Linked DNA regions of Homo sapiens: region 1 is linked to region 2. The links come from fine-mapping of genetic effects on gene expression. Tissue or cell type: esophagus muscle. Region 2 holds a variant in brackets; the other region holds the start of a gene. All regions are shown on one strand. Distances are from middle to middle.

The links. PIP is the estimated chance that this variant, and not a neighbour inherited with it, causes the effect.
Region 1: LINC01366 starts here. The variant in region 2 is fine-mapped to the expression of LINC01366 in esophagus muscle (GTEx, PIP above 0.99). The same link has a PIP of 0.9 or more in gastroesophageal junction, sigmoid colon and tibial artery.

The regions. Positions count from the first base shown.
Region 1 is chr5:170,326,993-170,335,095 of GRCh38, forward strand. It overlaps LINC01366 (long intergenic non-protein coding RNA 1366), which reads left to right and starts at 4,401. Exons shown (of 2, transcript NR_108025.1): 1 at 4,401-4,585; 2 at 6,142-8,103. RefSeq lists enhancers at 838-937, 3,704-4,903, 4,468-4,637, 5,703-6,552, 6,469-6,518 and 1 more.
Region 2 is chr5:170,375,472-170,383,574 of GRCh38, forward strand. It overlaps KCNMB1 (potassium calcium-activated channel subfamily M regulatory beta subunit 1), which reads right to left. Exons shown (of 4, transcript NM_004137.4): 4 at 1-3,502. The coding sequence ends at 3,233. It also overlaps a transcript of KCNIP1 not described here. Among named protein-coding and RNA genes, the nearest start is that of KCNMB1, 9.8 kb to the right of the region's middle. The variant T/C (reference allele first, on the strand shown) is at 3,526.

The DNA of each region.
Region 1 (8,103 bases), 48 kb before region 2:
TTGTAAGTTGAAACTTCAGGGTAGGAAGATCCTGAAATGCTTCAAGCACCTACAAGCAAACAAAGGTTTGCAAATTAAAATTAACGGTAGAGCACTAACAAAGATGTGCAAATTGCCTCTGAGGTTGTTTTTACTCGGTATGCTTTGTTCACTGCTTTATATTAATCGAAGTAAAACAATTTGTAGGGATATTAATAACTTTACCATCAACTCGGGTTCCTCTAACCCTAATATTCCCTTGAGATTTTAAGTTTCGTAATCATAATTTGTCCTAAGTGCCCACGGTGTGGGAGAAGCTGTGTATTTATGTTTCTGCAGATGATCTATCCTCCTACTTCACAGCAACAAACCTGAGGCTATCAGGCATAACTGCCCCATTTCCTGTCCTCCTACCTAGAAGCTTATTTATAACCTTCCCACCCTTGCCCCCTTCCTTCGAGACTCAGAGAGCAGTTCAGGGTTGGCCACTTATTGTGTCACTTGTTCCTCCCCTTCCTAATTCTTTCAAGGCATTCACTTTTTTTTTAATCAATTATTTTATTTCTTCCTCAAATTGTTAAACTTTACACACCAACTCTTCATCACAGCCCCCAAAGCCTGTGAATCTCATCTTTAAACAGTGAATCATGTCCTCCCAAAGCAAAACAAATCAACCACCCTAACACCTTCTCTCTGCCTCTGTTCTCCTCTGCCTCTTGCCTCCTGTCTTTTCCCAAAGCCAAGGTTCTGCAGAAGACCATCTACACCTGTCGTCTGCATGGGACTTTCATTCCTCAGTACCCAACTCTCCACCGAGAGCCCTCTGACAAGGTCACTGAGATGTCCCCAAAACCCATGCCAGCAGCCTCTTGTGGTCACCTTCTTGCTAGACTTTTAGCAGCAGGTGACACCCATGACTGAGTGTCTGCTTGGTATTCTCCCCTCCCCTGGCTTCCAGGACCCCTTTGGCTAGTCCTCGTCAGCCTCCTTTGCTGGTTCCTCTTCCTCTGCTCACCCTGATAAATATCAGAGCTCTGTCCTTGGTCTTCCTCATATCAAGCCCTAATACACTCTTGCTACACAATCCAACTCCCCCCAAGGCCACCCTCAACTCCAGTGACTCTCAGATATACACTGCCCCACAGAATACCAAAAGCCAACACGCAACTTGTTTTCAACACTCACTATGTGCTAGGCACTGTTCTAAGCATTTGACCTATGTTGTCTCATCTAATCTTTACAACCCTATCAGGGTGTACTATCATTAACATCCCATTTTACTGAGCACAGAGCTCAAACAACTTGCCCATGTCCACACAGCATGAAGCCAGGATTCAAGCCCTGTCCCACACTGTGCTCCTTGCAGAACATCTCCACCTCAAGGTTTTTCATCCACCTCTAACCTACCATGCCCCAAATGGAATTCACAATCCAAATGGAATCCTTTCCCCCAAACTGTTCTCCTTGTATTTCCAGGGGAAGATCCAGGCTTGGTGGAGCCTGAGGATTCTATAATTGGCCAGGAAGGGGCTCTTTAGGAAAAAATAAATAAAAAGAAAACAATGAATACAAGAGTAGGTTTAGGACCTTGATAGTGGATGTGAAAGGGAGGGATTCTCGCACATAACCTTCATTAGCTTCATGGTGAACCCCACCCCATACATTTTGTATTCCAGTGGCTAGCATCTAGTCATTCCAGCAGGGGCATGGAAAATTCTTCTCTTTATATTCCCTCCCTCTTCCCTTCTTCATCCATATGGAACCATGGATAGCACTCTAGTTCTACCTTCCTCAAGTCTCTAGAATCCCTCTTTACCTTTTCACGTACACTATCCTGATTAGCTCAGGTCCTCAACATCCCACACTCGGACCATAGCCATAGTCCACTCTGTCTATTCCTGCCACTTCCTGGACTTTCCCCAACACAGTTCCTGTGCTTAGCAGGGTGACCATCAGAAACATGCATCTCATCAACCCTTCTGTGATGGTCCATTTTCCTCTGACTAGCATCTACATTCCTTAGCCCAGCAGTACCCAGCACAGGTCAATCTTGCCAGCTTTACTTTTCCCTGTGCTCTCCTTTTGTTCCTTTCTTCAACAAATAATTATTGAGGACCTATTCTTGAGTACTATTATGAAGTGCCAATAGTAGGGTAATTGAATGCTAAACACTGAATATGCAGTAGCAATCAAGACCAGATCTTTCACACCTCTTGTCCCATCACACCAAATAGCTTGCAGTTTTTAGACTCTAAGACTGTGTTCAGCTTCTTTCCCTTTTCCTAGGCTGCAGGGAAGCTTTTAAATTCATTGATTACCTGAATAATAACCACTTATCCTTCGTGGATCAGATACAGTGTTATCTCCCATATAGAGCATTTTCTGATCACCCTCCAGCAGCAAAAATGGATCCCTTCCTCATTTCTATCCCAAATGTGCTTTTGAGATCTGATATTCCCTCAGAACACCTAATATACTTTGATGCAACTACTTGACTATTGAGAAGGTCTCCCTCATTTCAAAGCAAACATTTGGATCAAAGAGACATCATTTTATTCATCTCTACATCCTCACTGGAACCTGCCATATAGTAGACACCATACATTCATACATACGTACATTCACCAACTCATTCATCTTCATCCATCCATCCATCTACCCATCCATCCATTCATCTATCTACTCACTAATCCATCTACCTACTCACCCATCCAACCATCCATCTACTCTTTCATCCATCTACCTACCCACTTGTCCATTTAACCATCTACTCATCCATCTACCCACCCACCTGTCCATCCATCTACCATTTTATTCATTTACCTACCCATCCGTCCATCCATCCATCTACTCATCCATCTACCCATCCACCTGTCCATCTACCCACTCACTCATCCGTCTACTCACCCACCTGTTTATCCATCCATCTACCCACCCACCTATCCATCCAACAAATATTTCTGAATGTCCTCAATGTCCCAGCCATTTCTCCAGACTCTTTGGATATAGAGAAGAACAAGAAAGAAGAGGCCTCTGCTCTCACTAGCCCTACATTCTAGTGTCTGTTGCAGGGTCAGTGAGGGGTGGGTAGGGGGTCACAGACTACGGAAATAAACAAAGTAGGTGAGTGAGAAGTACTGTAAAGTAAATTAACAGAGCAATATCCCAGAGGGTACTACTTTAAAAGGAATGGTCAGGTCACCTTACAAGAAGGTGGCCTTTGTGATGAGTCCCAAATGATAAGAAAGGAAGCAGCCAAACAAAGAGAGACAGAAAGTCCTGATGTGGGAATGAGCTTTGTGTGTTTGAGGAACAGAAAAGAACAGAGTAAGCAGAGGAGAGGACAGAGATGAAGGCAGGGAAGTTAGGGAAAGTGTAAGAACTTGGAAAATACAGGAAACTCAGCAACAGCCAGACCTGATTTTGAATCCTTTCTCTAGCATTCATCTCTACACGTATGACCTTAACCAAGTCACCGCACCTTTCTTAGCCCCCATTTCCCCATCATGGAATGGGGACACAAGTACCTATGTCATTGGGCTTAGGGGAGAAAGTTCGGTAAAATGTCTGACACATGATAGATTTTGACAAACATTATTTCCTCTTCTTTTCTTGCTTTAAACATATAATGATGCTGTTACCTTAAAAGTTAGGTTATGCCATTAGAAGGCGCCTTTGTTCTTTGCTCTTGTTCTACCAAAATGAGAAAATGGCAAAAATCGCAGGGTGGGTCTCAGTTCTCCATTTTGTTAATATCCAAGTTGATATTTCCCTTTTGCGACAGTAACAACAACATGCAAACCAAAAACTGAAACAGCTTCAGTTCTGTGCCCTCAGGATCCAGCGTGGGACTCGTGAGAACCCTCCAGAGACAGCCACATTTCGAAGCAAGTGGCACAGGCTTTGCAGAAGGCACACTGGGCCCCTCTCAAAACTCAAGCAGCAAAGATGATGAGAGAGCTGCAGACTTCGGGGCGTGGAGGATGGGACTAAGCCGCAGAGTGCCTTGTCTAACATGTTTTAGGAAGCACCCTTCTCTTTCCCGACTCACATGGGGCAGCTATAATAATTCAGCTTCACGTGGCTGAATTATTTTCTGTTTTCACTTGGTTCTTTTTTTCTTCTCCTTTAAGAAAAAAAAAGTCCAAATAGGCTTTGGGCCACACTGGACTACCTAGTAAGGGGGATAGATGATCTAGATGATTTGAGAGCTGGTTTTCTGAAAAGCCAGGGAGCTCTGGTCTTGAGAAGACTCAGTAGCCAGGAAGCTGAGGAACACACACACACACACACACACACACACACACACACACAAACACACCCCTTCCTGGCTCCAGTTCCGCACCACCCCACACCCCCAACACCGGAAGTAGATTTCTCAATAGGCAGGGCTGGGTATGAGTCACAGGCAATTCCGTTTTGTTTGGGACCATGAGACCTCCCACTCCTGGGGCCAGAAGGAGTTGCTGAGAAGGAGCTGTGGTTCTGACCTTCAGGGGAATTCCCACGTCTGTATGGTGGCTCGTGAAGAGCATGGTTCCTTTTCTCAGCCCTCTTGAGGGGCGAGGATGCTGAGGACTGAAGTCGGTGGGGCTTGATGCATGTGGTGTGTGGATGGTGTGGGGAGGTGGGGAAGGAGGACTAACATGAATGGTGTGAGGTCTTTCAGAGGGGTCTTCCCAAGGTCACATAGTTGACGGGGGGTGAGTACTCACACTCGTGCAAAGGTGGGGGATAGGAAGGGAAACTGAGGCCATTAGTATTTGGCACCATAGCTGGTCTCTGAGGCTTTCAAATGTTCCCCCAGGAGGTTCAGCCTCTGTGGGGAGAAGCCAGGGGAACCCCATGGCACATCCCCAGCCCTGCCTGCTACCCGCCTCTGCCATCTCCCCTTCCCCTGGGCTATGAGGGGAGGTAATGAGACCTGTGACTCATACAGTGCTCTCCTTTTCCCTCCTATCAGCTCAGACTAAGCAGAGAAGTGGGCAGAGCTCTTTCACCAGAGGTGGAGGGGCCTGTTGGGGAGGGGACCCACCAAATCCTTGGGGGTGGTTCTCAGCTCCCCGGAGATAGGGGAGATGAGACCTCAGGAAGGCTCTGATCAGGCGTCTTCTGTTCTCTTTCCTTTCTTGGGTGGGAATGATGCTTCCCACTTTTGTGGTCCACCTGCAGGCCGCCTTTCATCCTTCTTCAAGTCACAGAGAGACAGAGAGGAGGGGACGAAGGACGAGCCATGGGGTTTTGAAAGCAGGCACAGCAGCAGGGGTGCTGCCTCCAGGGGTCTGCTCTGCCAAGAGTTCCTGTCCCAGGTGTCTACAAAAACAGTCAAACTCTATAAAATACTTGGAGATTTATTCTGAGCCAAATATGAGTGACCAATAGCCCGTGACACAGACCTCAGGAGATCCTGCCCAAGGTGGTCAGGTTACAGTTTGGTTTTATATATATTAGGGAGATACAAGAAATAAATCAATACATAGAAAATGTACGTTGGTTTGGTCCGGGAAGGCAGGACAACTCAAAGCAGAGGCTTCAAGTCATAGATACATTCAAAGATTTTCTGATTGACAATTGGTTGAAAAAGTTGTATTATCATCTAAAGACCTAGAATCAACAGAAGAGAATGTCTGGGTTAAGATGAGAGGTTGTGGAGACCAGGGTTCCCATTATGCAGAGGAAGCCCCAGGTAGCAGGCTTCAGAGAGAATAGGTTGTAAATGTTTCTTATCAGAATTAATTCTCTCCTGGAGCACGAAAAGGAAGGGGATTCTCTTCGAAATATAGATTTTCCCCACAAGAGACAGCTTTGCAGGACTATTTTGAGATACAGCAAATAAACATAACTTGGGGCAAAATACTTTGATTTTTTTTTTTCAGGGCCTGCTCTCTGTCATGTGATGCTATACTACAGCCAGGCTGGAATTTGGTGTCTTATTGCTACAAAGAATCAGCTTTGTCAATCCTAAGGTCTGTTTTAATGTTAATGCTGGTCAGTTGTGCCTGAGTTCCAAAAGGGAGCAGGAAATAATGAGGCACGTTCGACCCTCCCTTCCCACCACGGTTTGCACTAGTTTTTCAGGTTAACTTTGGAAGGCTATTGGCCGAGGCGAGGGGTCCATTCAGATGGTTGGGGGACTTAGAATTTTATTTTTGGTTTACACAGGTCACTGAGAGGCTGCCAGAGGGCCATTTTCATGACCAGAGGGATCTGTTCAACACCCTGTGGGTCCCAGCACCTATCTCAGGAAGCAGGGTGCATCTGTCCACCACCAAGTCTCAGGGTGGCTGGGTGAGCGCTCATCAGTCCCAGACAGCAGGTTGGCACAAAACGACACTGCCCACAAAACCACAGGAAGAAGAGAAACTCCGACTGTCTTTCAGCACACAGAAGACACTGTACTGGACCCGGACATTAGGCAGACACCCACGCCTGACTTTCAGGAGAAAAGAGAACATGACTAACGGATATTCTTAGTAGATGGTTTATTAGAAAAGAGAACATCTTCCAGCATGTGTCCTGGGGTGATGGGTGTGGGAAGCACTCAGTCCATAGTCCTGGTCCCTGGCTTCCCCAAGCCCAGCACCATGAATGTACAGTGGAAAGCAGAGGGTGCAGCGTCTCAGAAAGATGCTTCCACTCACAAGGATTGGAGCTCACAAGTGAGCTCCATAACCTGCAAACCAGAGAAACCTGAGACACTGCCCCTTGGCCATTTTATCAACGGAGACTTTATTGTGATTATCCCGGCAGGGGGCCGAGCTCTCCTCTCTGCAACAGGAAATGCTCTTTAGTGAAAATGCAGCATTTCTCCAAGGGTAACAAAGCTGAACGCCTGCTTAGCTTATGAACCCTCAGTTGGCCTAGGTGGTGCAAAGACCCTGCTGTTACTGCTTTGATCATCAGTACTGTGGACTGTACCAGGAGATCCCTGGGAATGTGCTCTGGGCGGAAGCAGCTTTTATCTTTGGCCCTCACCCATGCTTTATATGGTGAGGTTGGGAAAATGGCACAAGGCTTCTCCTGAACCTCAAATCAACACCCTTGCCCCATTTAGATCCTATCTGGCTGTTTCTTGCTAATATTACTGCATCACTGCACCATCTTTCCTATTTCAGCAAAGTGGAGTCATGTGTGGTTTATGGGGTAGATGGACCCCAAAACTGATAATATGAATCAAGCTATGGTGTTTACTCCCTAGGAAATGCACAATTTTTCTGGAAACCTACAGAAGCTTCAAATGCATTCGCCATGCAAAGCTAAGTCAGCAGAACAACCCGTTTGGCTTTGGAGGCTAGTTCAGTTCCGCGGACAGGGAGAAAGATGAGGCAGACTGTGGTTTTTCAGTTCCTGGAGCTTACGGAGCTCCAAAGCTCCCTCTCTTCCCACCCTGGCTGCACTGTTCTTAATTTTAGATAATACCCTGCCTTCTCGTATTGCTGCTGAGCTCCTAGCATCCTCAGTTTATCTGTCTGTGAAATGAAAAATCTAATGTTAAATTTTTTACCTATGGCATGAGAGAGATGGCTATGGCTCTTGTGAGCCTCTCTGCAGCCCCTCTTTTCCTTCAATCACCCTCTGTCTCTCCTGCCTTCTGCTTATTCTCTCTCTCCCCTCATCCCCACTTTCCCAGTGGGTCCTCTGTTCTCTTTTTTTTTTTCTTTTTAAATCTCTCTATGCCTCCAGCCGAGAAGATAAAGAGTGTACATCTTTCTGGTTAAAAAGTTTTGCTTTGCAGAAACACAGCCAATTTATGATTCTGGCCTTCCCAGCTAGGGACAGTGTTCATTTACATTTAGGACCATGAGGAGAGAGGCTTAGCTGTGTGTTTCTGAGGCCGGAGAAAATTACAGTGATATATAACAGTGCTGCACTCATAGAGGTGCTGAGCCGGGGTTGGGCTCAGGCGGCCGCTAAGCTCAGAGTGGAAAGTTTCAGAGGGGAGGCAGAAAGGAGAGGTCTATAGCTCCTCCAGATTCTAGGTATTAATTTACTAAGATATTCCTAAGCCAGAAAACAGAGACAGAAGACAAAGAGAAAGAGGGAAGAAGAGCAAGACAGAGAGTTAGAGAGAGACAAAGAGAGAGAGTTAGAGACAAAGAGAGAGTGGAGAGGAGAGAGAGCAAA
Region 2 (8,103 bases):
CCTGGGTTCCAGGGATGCAACGCAGCTCCCTGCCTGGCCCCTGTGGCTTTGAGTGGCTGTGTCCCTCAGCCCTTCACAGCTGGCTCTGCCCCTCAGCCCTTCACAGCTGGCTCTGCCCCTCAGCCCTTCACAGCTGGCTCTGTCCCTCAGCCCTTCACAGCTGGCTCTGCTGAGTTCTGTGGTTGAGATGCCAGGTACTGGAACACACAGCTCCAGGCTTGAGTCCTAGCCCCTCACTTTACAGATGGCCTTGGCCAGTTACCTCTTACAGCCTCAGTTTTTCATAGTAACTTAGATAGCACTTACCATATGTCACTATCCTAGGAAATTTACATAAAAATTTGTTTCATGCCAAAACTCTATGGAAAGATACTATTATCAGTTTCGTTTTGCAAACGAGGAAACAGGCACAGAAAGGTTATTCGTCCAAAGTCACCCAGCTTGTGAACAGCACAGCTGGAATTTGAACCCAAACAGTGCACATCCCAAGTCCACATACTTAGCCACTGTCCTCTGTTGCTTCTCATCATCTGTGAGGCAGGTTCAGGAGTATCTCATTTTTTTTTCCAAGGCAAACTAATTAGTACAGTGCCTGGCACAGAATAAATAAGCACCCATACATGCCAGATAACATTGTCAGTATAACTTCTGGAAGTTTCTGAGTATTCATGACTTATTCTTTTTTTTTTTTTTTTTTTTTTTTTTTTGAGACAGAGTCTTGCTCTGTTACCCAGGCTGGAGTGCCGTGGCGCGATCTCGGCTCACTGCAAGCTCCGCCTCCCGGGTTCACGCCATTCTTCTGCCTCAGCCTCCTGAGCAGCTGGGACTACAGGCGGCTACCACCACGCCCGGCTATGATTTTTTCTATTTTTTAGTAGAGACAGGGTTTCACCGTGTTAGCCAGGATGGTCTCGATCTCCTGACCTCGTGATCTGCCCACCTCGGCCTCCCAAAGTGCTGGGATTACAGGTGTGAGCCACCACGCCCGGCCGACTTTTTCTTGTTACTAACAATAGCTCTTTTTCCCTGATCCTCTCCCTCCTCCTACCTCCCGCCCTCCAATAGGCCTCAGTGTGTGTTGTTCCCCTCTTTGTGTCCATGTGTTTTCATCATTTAGCTCCCACTTATAAGTGAGAATATACAGTATTTAGTTTTGTGTCCCTGTGTTAGTTTGCTAAGGATAATATTTGGCCTCCAGCTCCATCCATGTCCCTGCAAAGGACATGATCTCCTTCCTTTTTATGGCTGCATAATATTCCATGACGTATACGTACCACATTTTCTTTAATAATGGGTACTAGACTTAATACCTGGGTGATGAAATAATCTGCACAACAAACTCCCTTGACACAAGTGTACCTATGTAACAAACCTGAACGTGTACCCTGCAACTTAAAATGAAAGTTAAGAAAAAAACACACACACAAAACAAACAAAAAAAACTATAGTTGCCATTTTAAACACCTATGATGTGTCAAACATTCCTTCAGCCCTCCCAACTATCCAGAAAGAGTCCTTCTTTTATAGATGAAAAAACTAAGAATCAAAGAGATGAAATCGGGCAGAGTAGAGACAGGATTCAAACCCAAGATCTGCATCTTGGACTCACAACACTGGAAGAAACTTCAGACACCAGCCTAACTTCACACCCAGCTCAGGACTGGCCCTGCCGAATGGTCACTCACCTGCTCTGAAAATCCTCGCGACAGGACGCTCACTTCCTACACCGGTAGTTCTCTGGCTCGAGGTGTGCCACAGAATCCCCTACGCATTGTTAGAACACAGAACATTGCTACCCCCACCCCGTGCAGGGCTTCTGGCGTGGTGGGGCTGGGACAGGGGCCTGAGAGTGTGCATTTCTCACAAGCTGCCACAGGATCCTGATGCTGCTGGCCCAGGGACCACACTTGGACAGTCATCGTTCTAGGAAAACTTCCTGGAGTGGGAATGGTAAAGGTGATGGCTTCTTCCCATTTTGCCCTTTTCAAATCTGAGATAGGCTTCCCCAGCAGGCTCAGTGCCAGAGTCCATACCCTCAATTTAAATAACAAATCCTCCTCTATATCATGACCTTTCCTCCAGAGGGTTGTTTTTCATTTTTTGTTTTTTGTTTTTTTTTTGAGACGGAGTCTTGTTCTATCACCAGGCTGGAGTGCAGTGGCACAATCTCGGCTCACTGCAAGCTCCGAACCCCGGGTTCACGCCATTCTCCTGCCTCAGCCTCCTGAGTAGCTGGGACCACAGGTGCCCACCACCACGCCTGGCTAATTTTTTGTATTTTTAGTAGAGACGGGGTTTCACCATGTTAGCCAGGATGGTCTTGATCTCCTGACCTCGTGATCCACCAGCCTCGGCCTCCCAAAGTGCTGGGATTACAGGAGTGAGCCACCGCGCCCGGCCCAGAGGGGTTTTTAAGATTGTGTGTTCTGAATGGCCTGTCTCTGACTGGAACCCAACTCCGTCCCCAGACCCACTTCCATCTTTTTCTGTGAGGGGGACACACTCTTTCAACTTTTCCAAAATGGCATCTACCATGGCTTTTCTGATTAAAAGCAAACGAAACACACCCTTCCTATAATCAAAAATTTAGAAAAGCAGCAAAAATAAAAAGGGGATAAGGAAGAAAACAGAAATTAACCACCATCCCACCGCTAAAATTTTGATGAGTTCTCATGTGTTTCCTTGCAGCTGATTGTTGTTTGGCATACATTTATTAATATTGGAATTAAAAATATATATGGCACTTTATATCCTAGAAAATAGTAATACTGTAAATGTGTTCTAGAAATGGGAGCTGCTGTTGCTCTTATTAGAGAATTCAAACAAAGAAGGGAGGCTCGCTGGGGACAGCTTCTGGGGGAGGATGGGTACCGCTTTGAGACAACAGGGAGAACTCAGGCACAGAGGTGACGATCATCGTTCTCTGTGGGGCACATAGTGATGCAGCCGGAAACAGGTATGAGTCAGTTGAGTGGGGACAGGTAATAGAGAGCTAGAACTGGCTGGCCTTATGGCCTCCAAGGCATTGGGGAGCCACTGTACATTCTTGAGCAGGCAATGACTTCACAAAAGGATTTCTCAAAGGTTAGTCCTGCAACAGAAGACAGCGTGGATTGGACTGGAAGAGTGGGAGGGCAGGTGGAGAAGGCATTGTGCTGCAAGTGGGGAGCAGCCCTGGGGGCCCAGCCAGTCCCCTGTGCCCTGACAAGTGGTATGGCATGGATGGATGGCTCTACTTCTGGGCCGCCAGGATGGACAGGTACTGGTTGCTCTTCACCATGGCGATAATGAGGAGGCCACCGGTCAGCAGGAAGGTGGGCCAGAAGAGGGAGAAGAGGAGGGCCTGGGGCCCGTAGAGGCGCTGGAATAGGACGCTGGTTTCGTTCCCCCGAGGTGCGGAGAAGCAGTAGAAGACCTGCTGCTCTTGGAATTTGGCTCTGACCTTCTCCACGTCGGCCCGGGCCGTCTGGTAATTGTCCACGCTGCCTGGGATGTAGGAGCACTGTGGGGAGAAACAAGAGCAGC[T/C]GTGGGCTTGGAAATCCCCATTTCTTAGCCAAGGGCTTGATATGGAGTAAAGAAAAATACCAGCTTTGTAGTCGGGCCCCTGGATTGGAGTCGGGGCTTTGGTCTAAAGCTTGGCAGGCCATGCGCTGTACAGGTCTGGAGAGCACGCTCTCATTTGTGTCTTGTGTGTGGATGGCGGTGCTGGAGCTGCTCGGGGTACAGGCTACACACCTGGGCGCAGGTCCTACCTTGGAGTCCTGGCTCTGCTTGGATTGGCTGTAGAATTTTTGGCAAATTTCTCACTCTTTCTGAGCCCTGAAGCTTCATCACTTAAATGGGTGAATATCGGTTTCAAAGGATATTATGAAAGAAGGACTTCACACAGAGCTATCTAAGGAAACCAGGGAGGGACACAGGCCAAGTGGGCTGTGTATTTGAAATCGAGATCATGTGCTCAATTGCCTACAGGGCTCATGAAGGTATTGTCAGAGGGTGAAGCAGGCAAAGCAATGAGATGACAGGTGCCCACTGACTCTTGCCTTGGTGCCAGGAAGAATTGCCAGGGTGTGGCAGGGCCTGTCAATAGGGAGAGAGCCAGCTGCCTCCAGACAGGCAGTCACCACTCCCTCCAGGCAATGGATGTCAGGCCATCCAGAAGATCTATAATAGCCAGACCTCCAACACTTTAAGAGAAGTTAGAAACCAGATCACACCTGTAATCCTAACACTTTGGGAAGCCGAAGGGGAAGGATCCCTTGAGCCCAGGAGTTCGAGACTAGCCTAGGCAACATAGCAAGACTTTATCTCTACAAAAAAAGTTAAAAATTATCCAGGTGGGCATGGTGGTGTACCTGTAGTCCCAGCTACACAGGAGACTGAGGTGGGAGGATCACCTGAGCCCAGGAGTTGGAGGCTGCAGTGAGCTATGATCTCGCAACTACACTCCAGGTAAGGCAACAAAGCGAGATCCCATTTCAAAAAAAAAAAAAAAGTAAAATATTAGCTAAATTTAAAATTGAAAACCTTTGCAGTTTCAACCTGTGTACAGCAAACAAACTATGTTGGCAAGCGGGTATTTGACACTGGGATCCAAAGGAAAGAAAGAATGCATTGAAAAGAGTTTTGTGCCAGCAGAGCATGACACACATTTAATTCTGACGTTGATTATTGTTATTAGGAACTTTCTGCCCTGTTCAGATGAGGCCAGCTGGAAAGTGATGCAAAGCAGTCATAAAGCGGAGTTTTATCTGGTTTTATCTCTGTTCTGAGCTGCAAGTGTGGTGCCCCCATCTGCAGCAGAATACCTACAGGGCCCCCATAGCCCAGGTCCCTACCCACTCTGCATCACTGAGGGCGAGACCCAGGAATGTGTGATTCCTTCATGCACTTAATTTTGCCCTAGTGAAATCATGTGCAAGATCAAAATGTGTAAAACTGAGACCCAAATGGCAGGTGTTGAGCCAGATTCCTTGCAGGCCTCGGCCACTCCCTGGATTTATATGAGGTGCCACCCTGGAAGCTGCCTGCCCTGAGGGCATTCACTCCAGCAACACAGAGGAGGGTTGCACTGTAGTTCTCACAGCCTGGGAAATGCAGATGCTGCACTCAGATCTAGGGCCCCAGCCAGCCAGGGAGTAGCTGAGGCTGGGGAGACGCTGGCTCCTCAGGAATCTGGCATTCAGAGCTGTTGGACACTGCCAGGTCCTCAGTAGCATATAATCCAGCATCCTGAGCTGACGGTGAGGGGGCCTGGCCTGAGTCTCTCCAATGCCTCTGACTGTGACCTTGGCTAACCTAGCTCCTTAAATAGCAGTGTGGCTATGGAGTCAGACAGGCCTGAGTTCTGAGCTGTGTGACCTTGGCAACTGCCACAACCTCACTGGGCCTTGTAAAATGGGTTTGTGAGGCTACCTGCCTAGGAGAACTGTCATGGGGATTAAATGAGATGATGCATGTAAAGCACTGAGCACAGAAGCCCAGCACACGATAAGAACTCAAAAAAGTGGAAGATGCTATTATTAATAATAATATGTTTTGACTTATCTATGAAATTGCAACAACAGCTCCTTCTTTACCTTCTTAAAAAGAGGTCTATGGATGAGCTCTGAAGTAGAGGCTTCTGTCCATCCTGGGCCTAGTGTATCCTCTGCCTGCTCAGGGTTCCTCTGGATCTTTTATGCTGGGCCTGTTTGGCAAGACACTGGGCAGGAATTCACTCTTCATGGCCAAACCCAGAAGCCGGGGCCTGAATGCATCCTTTCTCTCCTGTCCTGGGTCCAGCTAAGCCTGAGTTATCTGAATGATCTGAAACCAACCAGCTTTTTCCCAAGCCCTGCAGTGTAAGGTCCCCAGGACAGACAATGGGAGGGAATTTAGAACTCACCTGCTCCAGGCTAAGACTCACAGGAAAAGCTGAGGGCAGACTATGGCCCCTACCTTCAGAGTTGGAGGGTGGGATGAGAGTCTTCTTGGCCCTTCACAGTGATTCCAGAGGACACCCAGCTAGCCTGGAGCCCCAGCCACTTGAACCCCTATGATGGACATAGGCGGAAGGAGCAGCTAGCCCACAACCCAGCTGCTTGGCAAAAACACGAAGGGCATTTCCACTGCTTCCTCCCAGCTCCTGCAGCCTGCTATCAGCACCACACCTGGTCAAGCCTGGGCGGCAGGGGAGAGGACAGCAGTGGCTCCAGCATGTCCTTCCTTCACATCCTGCTGACAGTTCATTCAGGGGATGCTCCTCTGAGCTGGCAATCTCAGGACCAGGGAGGCAGCCTGAAAACCAGCCTGCTCTGGCCCATATCACTCCCGGAGAATGTTACCAGTTATTGAAAATTTGTTTCTTGCATTGGGATAAATCAAGGGCTACTGAATGCCAACGCAGAGGCAGGGGTCATGGGTAGGAGCTGCCTCCAGTGGGCCCTGAGACCTCTCTCCACCGGGTGGGGCCGAGTCATACTAGCGATGACAGAACACCTGACCATCCTGCACTGCCCAGACCCACTTCTCATTGACCTTCAGCACTCTCAAGATCCCCCAGCCTCCACGCCCCATCCCAGGCACCCTGCCCCTTCCCGTCCCATCAGCCATCAAGTCCGGACTGTCAGCATCTCCCCTGCTGCAGGCCACATCTTGGTCGTGAGTGCTTGCTGCGGCCTTGGCTCCTCTGTCTAGTAACTGGACCCACACACCTGTAGGCTCCATCTTCCCAGCCCAACTCTGAAACTCTGATCATGCCCTAAAGATTCCCATTGCCAACAGCAATAATTTCCAACCTTAGAATCACCTTGGGAGCTCCATGAATGGATCTCTGACCAGAGATTCCACCTTGATATGTCTAGTGTTGGACCCTAGTTTTGTTTTTTAAGACTCTTACAGGGTTCTAATGCATAGCCAAAGTTGACATATCTTGAGACATACACACTCACATTTTAATTCCATATTGTGGTGATCAAAGGCCTCTGGGAACAGACCTTAGTCTGCCCTGACAGCCTTTTCCAGCTGCATACACCCCATCATGGGTCATTTTCTGTAGTCAGCCCTCTGATCCCTGTCTCCACCTAGCCCTTCCCTCCGCCATGCCTCGTCCTATAGGCATACCCGCTTCCTATATCACCTCATTCTCTATGCCTTGCATCCTGCGCCTGCCTGATGTTAAAAGCCTAATCCAAGAGCCTTTCTTTTTTTTTTTTTTTTTTTTGAGATGGAGTTTCACTCTTGTTGCCAGGCTGGAGTGCAATGGTGCAATCTCACCAAGAGCCTTTCTGATACCCCCATCATTGTCAGCTGGAAAACATCCCCCTCCTCTAACCCCTGTAACTTCCTCTGTTCTTCTCCCCGGTGCCAATTCTTCCCTGCTAGGCACTGTTCATGCATGAGCTCTCTCCTCTTGAGTCCTACAGGCTTGACACAGGAGGTGCTCAATGGCTGTTGAATAAATAAATGAGAGGAGGAAAGAAGGAAACAAGGAAGGAAGGAAGGAAGGAAGGAAGGGAGGGAGAGAGGGAGGGAAGGAGGGAGGGGAAAAAAAAGAAAAGAAAGAAGGAGGGAAGAAAGGGAAAAAAGAAGGAAAGAAAGAAGGAAGGAAGAGAGACAGAATATGGGCCAACTGATCGCTTTAGGAAAGGATATGGTGGTGAGTTTTGTGTTTTGGAGGGGGAGGGTGGGATGTTGGGATGCAAGGATGGAAAAACCATCTAAATGTTTGTTTATGGAGGTTACTCCAGCCCTGAGTCCCTGGTTTCCTGGGGAGTCACCGGGATTCCACTTTGAGGATCTGGCCCTGGGCCTGGTCCCTCATTTGACTGAGGTTGTAGAATGAAAGTACTAACACTAATCACTGCTTTTGTTTGAGTGCCCACTATCCACTCAGCATCAAGCGTGGCACTTTATATACAGCGTCTCTGACTTGATAACAGCTCTTCAAGGTGCAGCATTAGCATTCCACTTTACAAGGGTGGAAACTGAGGAGGTGAGAGGCTAAGTGGCCTGCCTATGTTTACACAGCCAGTTAGCGGCAGATTCAAACCCAGGTCTGTGTGACTCCAACACAGAAGAGCTAGGGCTGGCTCAGTCTCATTCCAGCTGTGAGACCTGGTC